4 linked regions of the Homo sapiens genome follow. The protein of the gene in region 4 purifies or fractionates together with the protein of the main gene of each other region. This does not show direct contact. Each region holds a gene or a part of one and is shown on either strand. Other genes may lie near its edges.

Region 1 (3,500 bases), on a different chromosome or scaffold from region 4:
TATTATTATACATGGTAAATGAGATGAAAAAAATGTTTAGAATGTGAATTCACTAGACCTTTGCTGTACTGGATTTCACAGGTGAAAAGATTTCTCTAAGATTTCTGAACTTTTAGTGTCTTCTCACATACTTCTAGTGTAAACAAACACTATAAACTTAACATCTGTATTAATGCTACCTACCTTTTTTAGGATTAATGATTAACGAGATTTTGAAGATACTTCAGTTAAATTCTCAGACACATAATTGTGTATTAACCTTTTTGAAAGGCATTTTCAATGAACACTGGTGGTTTTTTCAGGAAATTGCTGAATACCCACTCACAAATGCAGATATTGATGAAGTAGGATATTTGTATATTTGCTTTTTTTCAATCATTCAGTTTTATGAACATGGGGTCAAAGCGTATTTCAAAATAAAGACCATTTATAAAACTGGACCACTTTAATGTTTACAATTTAATAAATCTCTTCATTGCAGACATGTATGGCTGTTTGGTAGTATTCAGAAACATCACAGTAATGGCAGTTTCTTCAATTGGTGTGTAGTCCTCAATAATTATATATGAAATTGCTGTCAAACCAGTAAGACTGCATTTATACATCCATCATTTTCAGGATTGTTGGTAACCTGGGCATATTTTCCTAAGGAAAACAAAACCAAAAAAGGGAAAAGGGAGGGTTGTTAGCTAATAAAAATTAATTTTAAAGAATATAACTTTTGCCTTTTTTTTCTTTTTGTCTTAATACAGGGTTTCACTCTTATTCCCCAGGCTGCAGTGTGGTGGCGTGATCTGGCTCACTGCAACCTCTGCCTCCTGGGCTCAAGCGATTCTCCTCACTCAGTCTTCCGGGTAGCTGGGACCACAGGCACACGCCACTGCCTGGCTAATTTTTTTGTTTTTGTATTTTGTAGAGATGTGGTTTTGCCATGTTGCCCAGGCTGGGCTCGAACTCCTGAGCTCAAATGATCCGCCTGCCTTGGCCTCCCAAAGTGCTGTGATTATAGGTGTGAGCCACTGCGCCCAGCCATGCCTAAAATATTTCTAATTACCACTTTCAATAAATAAGAAATGAACCATAAAGGATAAATGAGATTTTACAAAATTCAATCATTTAAGGACAAATTTGAGTTCTGAATACAATTTTCATACAAATAGTGTTTTTGCAAATAATGGCCAGCTCCATGTTATTAGTACATTGCATTAACAGGCTTTTGTGGATTGACCTGAGCATTGTCACTTTTTCACATAATTCTTCCTGGAAAATGTATCAAGTTTCAAATGAGTTTCAAGTCAAGGTAACAACATATTTTAAAACTGAGGTCAGCTGACATGAAGTATAAACCAATGACTGAAGAAGTTGTAGCGTGTATTCTTCCCTTTCAAAGAAATTGGATCTGGGTACTAAAGGTAGAAAACTAAGCAAATGAGGGCGTTTAAAATTACTGCATGACACATTTCTGTTTTAATTATTACTGATCTAGTGTGATTATATGTTGTATGCCTCCCTCGGCTCATGGTTAATTTATTCTATTTTTTTTTTACAATTTTTTTTAGTTATAACTTTGCATCTGCTTCCCTTGTAATAAAGAATTTTTATTAAAAAAGATCAAAATATTTTTATTTTACTTATTTTTGAGATGGAGGCTTGCTCTGTCTCCCAGGCCGGAGTGCAGTGGCATGATCTCAGCTCACTGCAAGCTCCAGGTTCATGTGATTCTCCTGCCTCAGCCTCCCGAGTAGCTGGAATTACAGGCACCCACAACCACACCTGGCTAATTGTTTTGTATTTTTAGTAGAGACGGCGTTTTGTCATGTTGGCCAGGCTGGTCTCCAACTCCAGTCTCAAGTGAACCGCCTGCCTCGGCCTCCCCAAGTGCTGGGATTATAGGTGTCAGCCACTGCGCCCAGATAGCGAGGGGGCTTTTTAAAGCCTGGAAGCTTCTACATGATTTCTGAGACCTGTTAATGGGAATTAACAGAACGAACTAAACTGTGTTAAATCACTTTCAATTATTATTATTACTTTTTGAGACAGAGTCTCGCTCTGTCATCCAGGCTGGAGTGCAATGGCACGATCTCAGCTCACTGCAAGCTCCACCTCCCAGGTTCAAGCGATTCTCCTGCCTCAGCCACCGGAGCAGCTGGGATTACAGGTGTGGGCCACAACACCTGGCTAATTTGTGTATTTTTAGTAGAGATGGGGTTTCACCATGTTGGCCAGGCTGGTCTTGAACTCCTGACTGCAGATGATCTGTCCGCCTCAGCCTCCCAAAGTGCTGGGATTACAGGCTGAGCCACCGCTCCTGGCAGTTTCAATGATCAGTTTACCTACGTGGGACAGATAGTTCTATTTCTTTAAATGTAATAGGTATTTTCTCTTAATGTTAGCATGTAAATATAAGAAGTATTTACATAATATAAAGTTGTGGCAAAAGAAATTTTTTCTTACGGAAGACATCTTTAGTCATTGGCTAATACTTCATGTAAGCTGACCTCACTTTTAAAATATGTTTGATATATGCCTCCCTTCCTCTGCTCATGGTTAATTTATTCTATTTTCTTATAATATTTCTTAGTTATAACTTTGCATCTGCTTCCCTTATAATAATTTTTATTAAAAAGGTTAAAAAAATTTTTTTTGAGATGGAGATTTGCTCTGTCTCCCAGTCTGGAGTGCAGTGGCACAATCTCAGCTCACTGCAAGCTCCGCCTCCTGAGTTCAAGTGATTCTCCTGCCTCAGCCTCCCAAGTGGCTGGGATTAGAGGTGCTCGCCACCACACCCGGCTGATTTTTTTGTATTTTTAGTAGAGGTGGGGTTTTGCCATGTTGGCCAGGCTGGTCTCAAACTCCTGACTTCAGGTGATCCACCCGCCTCAGCCTCCCAAAGTGCTGGGATTTACATGCGTGAGCTGCTGTGCCTGGCTAAAAAGGATAAAAATAAATCTAGCAGAATGTATTACACCTTATGTAACTAAAACCAGTAAGCTAAATTTTAAAACAATTGTATTTATAACAACTTTTTCTATAAAGTATTTTTTACTAAATATTTACATCTGATTTACAGTGTTTTAGCTCTACTGCATTAAAAAAATTTGCTGTATATTTTATTAATACATCAACTTGAATAGTATTTCTATTAGTACTGCAGAACACAGCAGCCCTGTATTCAAAAATTCACTTACCCCAAATAACTTTGCCTCCTTGTGTCACAAGGCCCAATTCGCTCACATTTACTTCAATGACAGTACCTTTGGTAATAACACCCAAAGTTGTATACAGTGGGGATGAGGGATTCTTCTTTACACCAAGTATTGGTAGGCAAAAGGTGGCTTTCAGTTCAGGATGTGTTACATGGGCTTTCTTGAAACGCAAGCCCTAGTAAGTCAAACACAACATAAGAATGTTTACGTCCAAAATGTTAACAGTGATGAGTAGTGGTCGTTTTCGCTTATCTTTTTCAACCATCTCCAAAAAACTATGGTTGAATAATGTCA
Region 2 (3,500 bases), on a different chromosome or scaffold from region 4:
AGTCTCCTGAAGTTGGTGACGGACAGTGGACTCCAGCGTCTAGCCACCACACCCACACTAGAAAGGATTACTGGCTATAAATAGCGCAATAATAGGATCAGGCCGGGCATGGTGGCTCACACCTGTAATCCCAGCACTTTGGGAGGCCGAGGTGGGTGGATCACCTGAGGTCAGGAGATCGAGACCACCCTGGCCAACATGGCAAACCCCGTCTCTACTAAAAATACAAAAATTAGCCAGGCGTGGTGGCACATGCCTATAGTCCCAGCTACTTGGGAGGCTGAGGTGGGAGAATCCCTTGAACCCGGGAGGTGGAGGTTGCAGTGAGCCGAGATTGCGCCACTGCACTCCAGCCTGGGTGACAGAGTGAGACTCCGTCTCAAAAAAAAAGATTACTTGTCAGGCTCCACAGTCCCAGGATGATGGCCTCTGTCCTCCTTCTGCCTTCCAAATCTCTCAGGAGAGAATCTCATTAGCAGAAATCGCAGTCAAGTCCACAGCCTGCTGCAAGGACCTCTGGGAAGTGTGTTGGGCAGGATTGGGCACTGAGTCAGTAGGAAGTATCTCACACAGTGATCTCTCAAGAGGACTTCCTTTTCAGACTTGGCAGGGAGAAGAGTCTCCACTGCTTGATGGCAAAAAATTCTCCCATGAGGGAGCAAGTTCCTGGGCCACAGCCCTACCCGACCCTCTGGCTTTATAGTAACCTTATTGCCCATTAAATAGTCAACTCAGCTGCTCAGAAGGGTTGGGATGTAGGGGAATAAAGGCCCACAGTTGGATCCCACAAGTGTAGTTGATGTTATTTGGGTAACATTGCACAGTTTGAAAACAGTGGGCACCCTGCTGCCAGCCCAGAATAGAGCTATACACAAATCCTGCTTAGGGCCCCTTCCTTTAAGGCCTCAGGCCCTTGCCGCTCTAGGACCTTCTCCTTGGCGTTCTGGTTCTTTGTCACAAGATTAAGCCACACTCTTCCATGGTCAAGAGTGTGGGCTCTGGACCAGACTGCTGGGGTTCAAGTCCTGGCTCTGCTATTAATACTTTTAAGTTAAATGACCTTAGGCAAATTAGTCAGTGTCCTCTGTCAATGGGGTAATAAACAATTCTGATATGAGAGATGAGCAGCACATTAAAACCAGAAGTATTTTCAGTGAAACTAGCTGCAAGGTGGCAGTAATATAGTCGCTTTGTAATAACCAAAATGTTCAGGCTGATCATGGTGGCTCACATCTATAGTCCCAGCACTTTGGGAGTCTGAGGCAGGAGGATTGCTTGAGGCCAGGAGTTCAAGACCAGTGTGGGCAACATAGTGAGACCTCATCTCTCCAAAAAACTAAAGTTAGCTGAACATGGTGGCACGTGCCTGTAGTCGCAGCTATCTGGGAGGCTGAGGCGGTAGGATCACTTGAGCCCAGGAGTTTTGGTTGCAGCGAGCTATGATTGTGCCACTGTGCTCCATCCTGGGCAATAGAGTGAGCCTGTGTCTCTGAAAAACAAACCAAAAAAACCCCAAAACATTCACTCAATCAAATTGTTATTGAGGCTGGGCGCAGTGGCTCACGCCTGTAATCCCAGCACTTTGGGAGGCCTAGGCGGGCAGATCACAAGGTCAGGAGATCGAGACCATCCTGGCTAACATGGTGAAACCCTGTCTCTACTAAAAATACAGAAAAAATTAGCCGGGCGTGGTGGTGGGCGCCTGTAGTCCCAGCTACTCGGGAGGCTGAAGCAGGAGAATGGCGTGAACCTAGGAGACGGAGGTTGCAGTGAGCTGAGATCGTGCCACTGCACTCCAGCCTGGGCGACAGAGTGAGACTCCATCTCAAAAAAAAAAAAAAAAATTGTTATTGAATGCCTCCTCATAGACTCTGCTAGGAGCTGGAGTAGCAACTGTAAGCCTCCTTTCTCCTTCCCTTACGGAGATAATAATATTTATGATATAGGATGTTGAGAAGATTTTTTTTTTCTTTTGAGGCGGAGTTTTGCTCTTGTTGCCCAGGCTGGAGTGCAATAGCGCAATCATGGCTCACTGCAACCTCCACCTCCTGGGTTCAAGCGATTCTCCTGCCTCAGCCTCCCGAGTAGCTGGGATTATAGGCATGTGCCACCACACCCGGCTAATTTTCTATTTTTAGCAGAGACAGGGTTTCTCCATGTTGGTCAGGCTGTGTCTCGAACTCCTGACCTCAGGTGATCCACCCGCCTTGGCCTCCCAAAGTGCTGGGATTACAGGTGTGAGCCACCACGCCCAGTCGAGAAGATTTTTAATTTTTTTTAGTCTTCCACAACAGTCATCTTATGTTGAGAAGACTTAATCAGATAATCCATGTAAAGGATTCAGTGTAATGTGTGGCATATGATAAATAATGTTGGCCAGGCACCTATAATCCCAGCACTTTGGGAGGCTGAGGCGGGCAGATCGCTTGAGGTCAGAAGTTCAAGACCAGCCTGGCCAACATGATGAAACCCCGTCACTACTAAAAATACAAAAAAAAATTGGCTGAGCGTGGTGGTGCGCCCCTGTAATCCCAGCTGCTCGGGAGGCTGAGGCAAGAGAATTGTTTGAACCCAGGAGCCAGAGGTTACAGTGAGCTGAGATCACACACTGCACTCAGCCTGGGCGTCAGAGCAAGACACCATCTCAAAATAATAAATAAATAAATAATGTTAATGATATTCTTTTTTTTTTCTTTTTTTGAGATGGAGTCTCACTCTGTCGCCCAGGTTGGAGTGCAGTGGTGCGGTCTTGGCTCACTGCAACCTCTGCCTCCCAGGTTCAAGTGATTCTCCTGCCTCAGCCTCCCGAGTAGCTGGGATTACAGGTGCCCGCCACCACACCCGGCTAATTTTTTGTATTTTTAGTAGAGACGGGGTTTCACCGTGTTAGCCAGGATGGTCTCGATCTTCTGACCTCGTGATCCGCCCACCTCGGCCTCCCAAAGTGCTGGGATTACAGGTGTGAGCCACTGTGCCCAGCTATAAATAATGTTAATGATATATTCTAATGGAGCATGTGAGAAAGAGAAATATTCTATTGTTTTGTTGTTTTATAGACACCATCAAGAGAAATTGGAGGCTAGTGACTGTGATCACCAGCAGAACTCACCTACTCTAGAAAGGCCTGGAAGGAAGAGGAAGTGGACTGAAACACAAGATTCTAGTCAAAAGAAATCCCTAGAGCCAAAAACAAAAGGTTTGTATGTTTTAGCAGGACCCACGGACTAGAGTTGATAAGATTCTGTAGCTGAGCAAACCCCTGTGTATTTTTTTTTTTTTAGATGGAGTCTCGCTCTATCACCCAGGCTGGAGTGCAGTGGCATGATCTCAGCTCACTGCAAGCTCTGCCTCCTGGGTTCATGCCATTCTCCTGCCTCAGCCTCCTGAGCAGCTGGGACTACAGGTGCCTGCCACCACGCCTGTCTAATTTGTTTGTATTTTTAGTAGAGACGGGGTTGCACCATGTTAGCCAGGATGGTCTTGATCTCCTGACCTCATGA
Region 3 (3,500 bases), on a different chromosome or scaffold from region 4:
ATTTTTCTCTTAGCTGCAGGAGAAAGGAGTCACATAAATTAGCACTGGTATAAGGGCTCAGTACATAAGACAAATGAGAATTTTAAAATGCACATTAGTTAACAATTACAACAGATGCAATATGGTATAGTGGAAAAAACTCAAGCTCTTAAAGTCAGAAAACCTTTGTTTGTATTTTCACTCAAACATTTACTAGCTAGCTATATGATCTTAGTAAATGATGTGAGTCTTTCTCCTCAGCTATAAAACAGTAATATAGAACCAACTATTTCCCAAGGTGTTGCAAGAATTATAAGAGTATGTTTATCAAAACAATTTTGTGAGATTTAAAGCATTATGTAAATTTTATTCTGAGTATATAACAGTACTCTGTGCACCTAATAGGTGCATTAGAACATTTAACAACAGACGATAGGCTGGGTGCAGTGGCTCATGCCTGTAATCCCAGCAATTTAGGAGGCTGAGGAGGGAGGACAGCTTGAGGCCAGGAGTTCAAGCCCAACCTAGCCAACATAGTGAGACGCCATCTCCATTAAACACACACACACACACACAAACACACCCACACCCACACACGATAGTTGCTATAAATTCCACAGACCTTAGCTATACTTATGAAACTCAGATAAAGAATACCCTGAAGATTATAGCTAGAAGGTATAGTTATTACTAAGTTATTCTTTTATGGTCATGTGCTGTGTAACAATATTTGGTCAACAGACCACATATACAATGGTGGTCCCTTAAGATTATAATGGAACTGAAAACCTCCTATTACCTGGTTAACATGATAGCTGTGGTAATATCACAGCGCAGCACGTTACTCACTTGTTTGTGGTGACATTGGTGTAAACAAACCTACAGTGCTGCCAGTCATACAAAAATATAGCATATTGGCTGGGCGCGGTGACTCATGCCTGTAATCCCAGCACTTTGGGAGGCCAAGGTGGGCGGATCACAAGGTCAAAAGATTGAGACCATCCTGGCCAACATGGTGAAACCCCCGTCTCTCCTGAAAATACAAAAATTAGCTAGGTGTGGAGGTGCACGCCTGTAGTCCCAGCTACTTGGCAGGTTGAGGCAGGAGAATCGCTTGAACCTGGGAGGTGGAGGTTGCAGTGAGCCCAGATCGCGCCACTGCACTCCACACTCCAACCTGGGTGACAGAGTAAGACTCCATCTCAAAAAAAAAAAAAAAGCACATTACAATTATACATAATACCTGATAATAAACAGCTATGCTACTAGTTTATGTGTTTACTATACTATACTTTTTATCATTAGAGTATATGTTTTCTACCTACAAAAAAAAAGTTAACTGTAAAACAGCCTCAAGCAGGTCCTTCAGAAGGTATTCCAAAAGACAGCACTGTTATCATAGGAAATGACAGGTCCATGTGTGTTGCTGCCCCTGAAGGCCTTGAGTGGGACAAGATCTGGAGGTGGAAGACAGTGATATTGATGACCCTGACCTTGTGCAGGCCTAGGTTAAGGTGTGTGTATGTGTCTTAGTTTTGTTTTTTTATAAATATGAGGTCTCACAACGTTGCCCAATCTAGATTCAAATTTCAGGACTCAAGCAATCCCCCCACCTCAGCTTCCTAAGTAGCTAGGGCTACAGCTGTGCACCATTGCGTCCGGCTTGTGTCTTTGTTTTTGGTAAAGTTTTAAAAGTTTTTAAAAATAAAAACTTTTTAGTTTTAAAAGTTGCTAAAAATAAAAACTTTTTAGTTTTAAAAGTTGCACACAGTAGTCCTAGGCCTTTGCATTCACTTACCACTCACTCACTCACCCAAACAACTTCCAATCCTTTAAGGTCCATTCATGGTAGGTGTCCTACACAGGTATACCATTTTTTATCTTTTATATTATATTTTTACTGTACCTTTTCTATGTTTAAATACACAAATACTTACCGTTGTGTTATAACTGCCTACAGTATTTAGTACAGTAACATGCTGTACAGGTTTGTAGCCTAGAAGCAACAGACTATCCCATAAAGCCTAGGTATGTAGTAGGCTGTACCACGTAGGTTTGTGTAAGTACACTTTATGATGTTGGCACGATGATGAAATCGCCTAAAGATGTATCTCTCAGAATGTATACCCATTGTTAAGCAATGCATGACTATAGTTAAAAGCAATTTCTAACTGTTCTGACCAATTATGAAAAGAGTGGAATGAATACTATCAGCTCTCCTGCAAAAAAAAAAAAAAAAAAATTAAAAATTAAAAAGTAACTGCCATCACTTTATATAGATACACATCAATAGCAAATTTTACTTTCAGATTCTCAAAGCCAATTCTTCAACTGAATATTTCATCAAACATATATAGACTTTTAGGTCACACTACCAATGGCTTGATACAAATCAATGCCTTCTAACATAAGCACACAAAAACAACCCACTCCTGGCACAGAAGTAGGAATAAAATAGTGAAATGTCTTCTAGGTCAGATTTTTATAGTTATGTTTCATTTCTTATTGAAGTCTTGCCAATGCTTAAAATATCAGATACTCCCACAATAAATTACAAGCTCAAAAACACATTCCAAAGCCAATGACAAAGACTTTTGGATTATTCAAACCATTGTGTTCTGCTAACTACAGCATATTCTAACAGGTCAAACAACTATATAATAAACCTATTTCAAATGGTAATTCTAAAAATTAAATCCAAATAGCAAATACCTAGCATAAACCAATGTTATAACACTTTAAAACAATCTAATCTAAAGTCCTTTTACACATTCTTCAAATATAAATAGCAAGAAGACATAACTCCTTACTCCTTTTTGGTTTCCTCAGAAGACTTATTTTCTTCCTTCTCTTCATTCTCAGGTTCCCCCTTTGGCTGCTCTGCCTCACTCGAAGTAGCAGGTGGAGTTTCATTCTCTTGTTCTTCTACAGTGGAGACAGATTCCTCTGAACTTATGTCTGGTTCTAAAAAATCAGGTGAGCAGAATTGCATAAGCAGATGTATTCCAATCTGAGTCAATAAAAGGTAAAAGCTTATCTTATTAAACGGACCAGCCAAAGTCTCCAATTAACAAATGAATTCTAAAATGAAAATGAATGACCACTAATGCAGTTTTCTTACATTCTTTATGTCACTCAAGTTTCCTGGTCAGGTGGTTATTTATCTATTATTAGAAAAATAGACCAGGAAATTACATAGAAAGGAAAACTCATTTCATCCCCAATTGTTTAATTATTCTACTTTGCAATATTCATGAGACTCATAATTAAGAAACTAGCCATTTTATAATTCAACAGGCAAATCTCAGAGAATAAGTAATTTAAAAACTCATGTATTCTCCAAGAGGAATGACTGAAGCAAGAGTAGAAATATGAGGGGAACATGGAGGTCTGCTGCTATTTGTGCCTTTCCTTCACAGCATGTCTCTGAGTAGCTACTATAAAACACAGAACCCCAGGCACTGGTTATGCAGGGACTTCAGAGAACTCCAAAAAAAAATAAAAATAAAAAAAATAAAAAA
Region 4 (5,589 bases):
GTGAATGTGAGGTGTGCATGTGTGCTCGTGTGTGTGTGTGAATTGTGCTTTTTTGTGTGGGGAAGGGGTAGAAGAGACATTTTTTTTCTCTTCCAAACCCAGGGGGCAGTAGTTATGTAGTAAAAGCAAACACCCTCCTCCTGTCAAGAAAAGGCTTAACTCAGGAGATTAACTGGAAGTGAAAATATATACAGATCTTTCTCATTCACAATAAGTTTACATTGAGAAGCTACCACCAAAACCCATCCCTCCAGACATTCCTCTGTTCAGAGGGAACTGTAGTGAGAGAGAAAAAGCATTAGATATGGGATCAGAACATGCACTCTGCTACTTTCTAGTGATGTGAGGCCTTGAAAATGTTACCTTTTATTTCTTCATTACATTATCCTTCATTCTTCTAAAAATGAGCTGAGGCTGCTTGCAATAAACATTGCTTACTATTTCTGAGCCTCAGTTTCTTTACCCTCTTAAGTAAGGCTAAAAAATGACATATCTACCTTTCTTTGTGGTTTCACTGTGAGGAACAATGATGAAATATTTATTTGGGATGAAAGTCCCTTGTAAATGATAAACCATTTCCCAAATATAAGGAGGTTTAATTGTTCATTAATTTGCACAGAATCCTAGAATCATGTATTCTATCTGCTTCATAAAATTCATCTTTCCTACATCCACTTCATAAAGACATTAAAAATGAATGCCATTATATAATATGAAAATGCTTCAGAAATAGCAGCACTTGGCTGGGCATGGTGGCTTACGCCTGTAATCCCAGCACTTTGGGAGGCTAAGGTGGGTGGATCACTTGAGGTCAGGAGTTCAAGACCAGCCTGGCCAACATGATGAAAACCCGTCTCTACTAAAAATACAAAAATTAGCTGGGAGTGGTGGCAGGCACCTGTAATCCCAGCTACTTGGGAGACTGAAGCAGAAGAATCACTTGAACCCAGGAGGCGGCCGGCCATTGCAGTGAGCCGAGGTCGCACCACTGAACTCCAGCCTGGGTGACAGAGTGAGACTCTGTCTCAAAACAGGAAAGAAAAAAAAAAGTAATAGCACTTCATACTCCTTAGGATGGCTATTATTAAAAAAAAAAATCAGAAAACACAAAATGATAGAGGATGTGAGAAATTTGAACCCATGTGCACTGCTGGCAGAAATGAAAAATGGCACAGCTGCTACAAAAAATGGTATGATCGTTCCTCCAAAAATTAAACATAGAATTACCATATGATCCAGCAATTCTACTTCTGATTATATACCCCCGAGGAACTGAAAACAGGGTCTCAAAGTGGTATCTGTACACCATGTTTACAGCAGCATTATTCACAATAGCCAAACTGGAAATGGCCCAAATATCCATCGACAGATGAATGGATAAAAAATTTATAATTATATACATACAATGAAATATTCATTCTGACATATGCTATAACATGGATGAACCCTGAGGACATCATGCTAAGTGAAATAAGCCAGTCAGAAAAGGATAAATATTGTACGATTCCACTTATATGAAGTACCTAGGGTTGTCAAATTCATACAAACAGAAAGCAGAATGTTAGTTGCCAGGGGCTGGGGAAAGAAGGGAATGGGAGTTATTGTGGCTTTTTTTAGAAATTTTAAAATATTGGTTTTTTTTTAAAGAAATGGCACTGAGGACCATAAATTAAATTATACATAGTTTTGCATCAATAATAAATTTTCTGTATTAATTGTCTTGTGATTATGTAAGAGAATGGCCTTGTTCTGAGGAGATACATGCTGATATATTCAGGTGTGAAATGTCATGATATTTACATATATCAAATGCTTTAAACACCAAAATGTTCTACGTGTGTGTGAGTAGCTGCATGTATACATAGAGAGAAAGAAAGTGCTAAAGCAATTGGGACAAAATGTTAACAGCTGATAAATCTAAACAATTTTATGTTTGTTTCTTTTCCTTAAAAAAAAGCTTTGTTAATTAGTTTTTAGAAAAATGATATACACTTTTTTAAACCTGGGGGGGGGGGCAATAGTGCTAAGCATAAAAATTGAATTGCAAACACTGCATGTATACTACCATTATAATTATGTAAAAATGGTGTATACATATGCATGAAGTTTGGAAGGGAAAATGAAGAGTTTTACACGGCAAGGTAGAGTGATTATGGCAGTTTTTCTTTCCTTGTGATTTCTGCTGATTTGAAAGTTCACACAATTGGCCGGGTGCAGTGGCTCATGCTTGTAATCCCAGCACTTTGAAAGGCTGAGGCAGGGAGATTACCTTAGGTAAGGAGTTCAAGGCCAGCCTGGCCAACATGGCGAAACCCCGTCTCTAATTTATACAAAAATTAGCTGGGTGTGGTGGTGCACACCTGTAATCCCAGCTACTCGGGAGGCTGAGGCAGGAGAATCACTTGAACCTGGGAGGCAGAGGTTGCAGTGAGCTGAGATCACGCCACTGTACTCCAGCTTGGGTGACAGAGAGAGACTCTGTCTCAAAAAAAAAAAAAAAAAAAGAGTTCACACAATTGAAAAAGAAAAGGCCTTTACCTCTGGGCCCTGGGGGATTCTTCTGCATGTGCTTGCTGTTGCAGATGTCCTGGATGTTCTGGACCACGTCGGGGTTCAGCCCGTGCTCCCTCATGATGGCCAGCACCTTTCTGTCCATCAGGTTATGGGACCGGAGGCAGTTGGGAAAACGACAGTTCCCTCGGGTGAAGTGGTCACAGATGTGGAGTCTTGAACACGGTGGCTGCTGGTTACAAATCTGCTGCCGACCCTCTCCCTTATAACTTTTGCATATCTACAGAAGGGAGAAACAACAGCCAGAGTCAAAACACCTTCTTGTATTTGCCAAACATTCATTAAGGCAAGCTCACGTGTGCAAAAATCTCTGAAGCAAGCAGAGATATACCAAAGGGGGAAAAATACATGCATATTCTGCAGTCTTTGATGAGTCACATTCAGTTGGTGATTTACTTGGGGCAGAAGAGGTCCACAGACTAACCAAAAGATACTGATCAATTTGATAACCCTTGGAAGAATCAATGTAAGCTGGTTAGCTACAAACAGGACCCAAAGTGAGCCCTATATCATGAAGGAACCCAGCACAGGAAGGCTCATCTTTGGTTATCAACTCACTTTGCAATGAAAAGGACATGTGGGTCTTACCTGCAACTGTTTGGAAATCCAAAATTTAGACTCTGCTAGGCAGAATGACATTTCTCAAAAGATTGCCTAAAGAAGATAAGTTTTGTATTTCCATCTAAATAGATACATGTACGTGACTAGCTCTGAAGAGATGTAGTCCCTACTGGAAAGAGGGCAGAGAAAATACTGCAGCTGAGGCCACGCCATATGATACAGAACTGGAGGATGCTGGTTTTAAAATCTGAGGCCCTGGAAGCAGCTGTGTGACCTCAAGGGATCCCTTACCTACTCTTAGCCTCCGTTTCCTTTGCTGTAACAGGAGGAAAAGATTTGTTCTGTCTACAAAAACCAAGTTGTTAAGCAGACTAAATAGCAAAATTTGTAAATGCGTTATGCAAAATATAAAGTGTGATGCACGTGTTTGAACCATGAAATGAGGAAACCAATATAATTAGTAAGAAACCTGAATTTCAGACATTTTAATGAGTCACTTCGATAGACTCTGAGCAAACCAGATCAGTATGGTTCACTGTGATCTGTCTAGATGGCAAGCCATGATTCAAACCCCACTAGCAATGATTTTGCCACATGGATAATCGCTAAAACCTGATTCAAATAGATATATGTAACTGCTATCAAGTCTATGATCCAGATTCTAGACTCTAGACCAGCAATTCTCAAAGTGTGGTCCCCGGACCAGCACCATCAGCACTACCTGTAAATTTGTTAGAAATGCAAATCTTCAGGCACTTGCCCATATCTATAGAGTCTGAACCATCAGAGGTGGGGCCCAACAGTCTGTGTTTTAACAAACCTTCTGGATGATTCTGATGTCCGCTAAAGTTTGAGCTGTAGCAAAAAAGCACCATTAGCAACTTCACAAATGATGTTTTGGTAACATTCCTATTCCCACGCCGATATTAAGCAAGAATGCTCCTGCCTTCATTAGACCAGAACAAATGAAAGCATTTCTTCCTTTAAGAAGCACATTTCAATTGTACAAGTTTATATATCAGGCAGTCAGGTTTGCCTGATCTTTTTATGTTCTCACAAGTCAAAGCAAAATGAAAAAGTGTGAATACGTAGTTTTTTAGGGCTGAGTGTGTGGCTTCCCACTGGTTACCTCCAGTATTTTAACATTGTGACTAACACTTGCAGGTGCTTTTAAATGTTAGTTGAATGAATGCAAAGCAATCAATGAAGTGACTGGAAACATTTCACTGTGGTCCCCATCTCACACCCCCTAAACCACAAAGCTGTTTCTCTGCACTGCCTCTTACACTTAACTTCGCCCCTCTCTTCCTCCTCTTTCCTTCTGATAAAATCCAAATCAGCCAGGCACAGTGGTTCAGGCTGGGCATGGTGGCTCACACCTGTAATCCCAGCACTTTGGGAGGCTGAGGCGGGAGGATCACCTGAGGTCAGGAGTTTGAGACCAGCCTGGCCAACATGGTGAAACCCCATCTCTACGAAAAATACAAAAAATTATCCGGGTGTGGTGGTGTATGGCTGTAATCCCAGCTACACGGGAAACTGAGGCAGGAGAATTGCTTGAACCCGAGACGGAGGTTGCAGGACCTGAAATTGCACCACTGCACTCCAGCCTGGGAGACAGAGTGAGACTCCATCTCAAAAAAGAAAAAAAAAAAAATCCAAATTGCCCAAACAACAGCTGCAAATCTGCAGGGATAATTCCTCCATCTTTAGAGAGCCATCCTGGACCAACTCTTCTTGAAATTAGCTGAACTCTGGCTGACTCCTCCTGCCAAAGCCCTATGAAAAAATTCCATCCTACTCCCCTAAGTTAAAACACTCCTTTAGAGCCTTCTCTTGCCCAGCATTCTTGAACAAAAACTTATACCAACAGTACTAACTCATGCTAACTCCAGAAACCAGCTCCTCAGACCTCTAGTTCAGGAAATAATGCAGTCCCCCATTCTGGGATCTTAACTCTGACGAGTGGAAAACAGCAATTAAATTATTAGCTAAAAATAAGCTTCAGGCAAGAACCTCCCCACCCCACCCCACCCTCTAATTGTGGGTACTGAATTCTAACAATGGAAAGGGAGCCTTGGGTGATGCTGACCTCTTGTTTGCACTGTTTGATAAAAGTATGATGACAACATTTTCCTATAGGGACCCTCACAGCACTGTAGTCAATGGGCTCTTCTGGGATCCCTTACACAACAGTGCCTTGTCTTAGGTTCATATCTGCCGACCTCCTCCCTAGAAAAGGGAAGTGATATGGTTTGGCTGTGTCCCCACCCAAATCTCATCTTGAATTGTAGTTCCCATAATCCCCACGTGTCATGGGAGGGACCTGGTAGGAGGCAATTGAATCATGGGGGCAGTTACTCCCATTCTACTGTTCTCATGATAGTGAGTTCTCACAAGATGTGATGGTTTTATAAAGGGCTTCCCCCTTTGCTTAGCACTCACTTCTCTTGCTTG

The links.
Region 1: the proteins of ZC3HAV1 (region 4) and NSA2 purify together in Homo sapiens (affinity purification with mass spectrometry; 2 studies listed by BioGRID and IntAct, with this or other methods). This does not show direct contact.
Region 2: the proteins of ZC3HAV1 (region 4) and NMNAT1 purify together in Homo sapiens (affinity purification with mass spectrometry; 2 studies listed by BioGRID and IntAct, with this or other methods). This does not show direct contact.
Region 3: the proteins of ZC3HAV1 (region 4) and HP1BP3 purify together in Homo sapiens (affinity purification with mass spectrometry; 2 studies listed by BioGRID and IntAct, with this or other methods). This does not show direct contact.

The regions. Positions count from the first base shown.
Region 1 is NC_000005.10:74,773,749-74,777,248, reverse strand, and holds part of NSA2 (ribosome biogenesis protein NSA2 homolog), read right to left. Parts: intron 3,382-3,500; coding exon 3,189-3,381; intron 646-3,188; coding exon 578-645; 3' UTR 1-577. UniProt on the Homo sapiens protein: Involved in the biogenesis of the 60S ribosomal subunit. May play a part in the quality control of pre-60S particles.
Region 2 is NC_000001.11:9,977,975-9,981,474, forward strand, and holds part of NMNAT1 (nicotinamide/nicotinic acid mononucleotide adenylyltransferase 1), read left to right. Parts: intron 1-3,056; coding exon 3,057-3,196; intron 3,197-3,281; coding exon of another isoform or gene 3,282-3,325; exon of another isoform or gene 3,326-3,500.
Region 3 is NC_000001.11:20,773,808-20,777,307, forward strand, and holds part of HP1BP3 (heterochromatin protein 1-binding protein 3), read right to left. Parts: intron 2,944-3,500; coding exon 2,790-2,943; intron 1-2,789. UniProt on the Homo sapiens protein: Component of heterochromatin that maintains heterochromatin integrity during G1/S progression and regulates the duration of G1 phase to critically influence cell proliferative capacity.
Region 4 is NC_000007.14:139,081,242-139,086,830, forward strand, and holds part of ZC3HAV1 (zinc finger CCCH-type antiviral protein 1), read right to left. Parts: intron 2,792-5,589; coding exon 2,539-2,791; intron 1-2,538.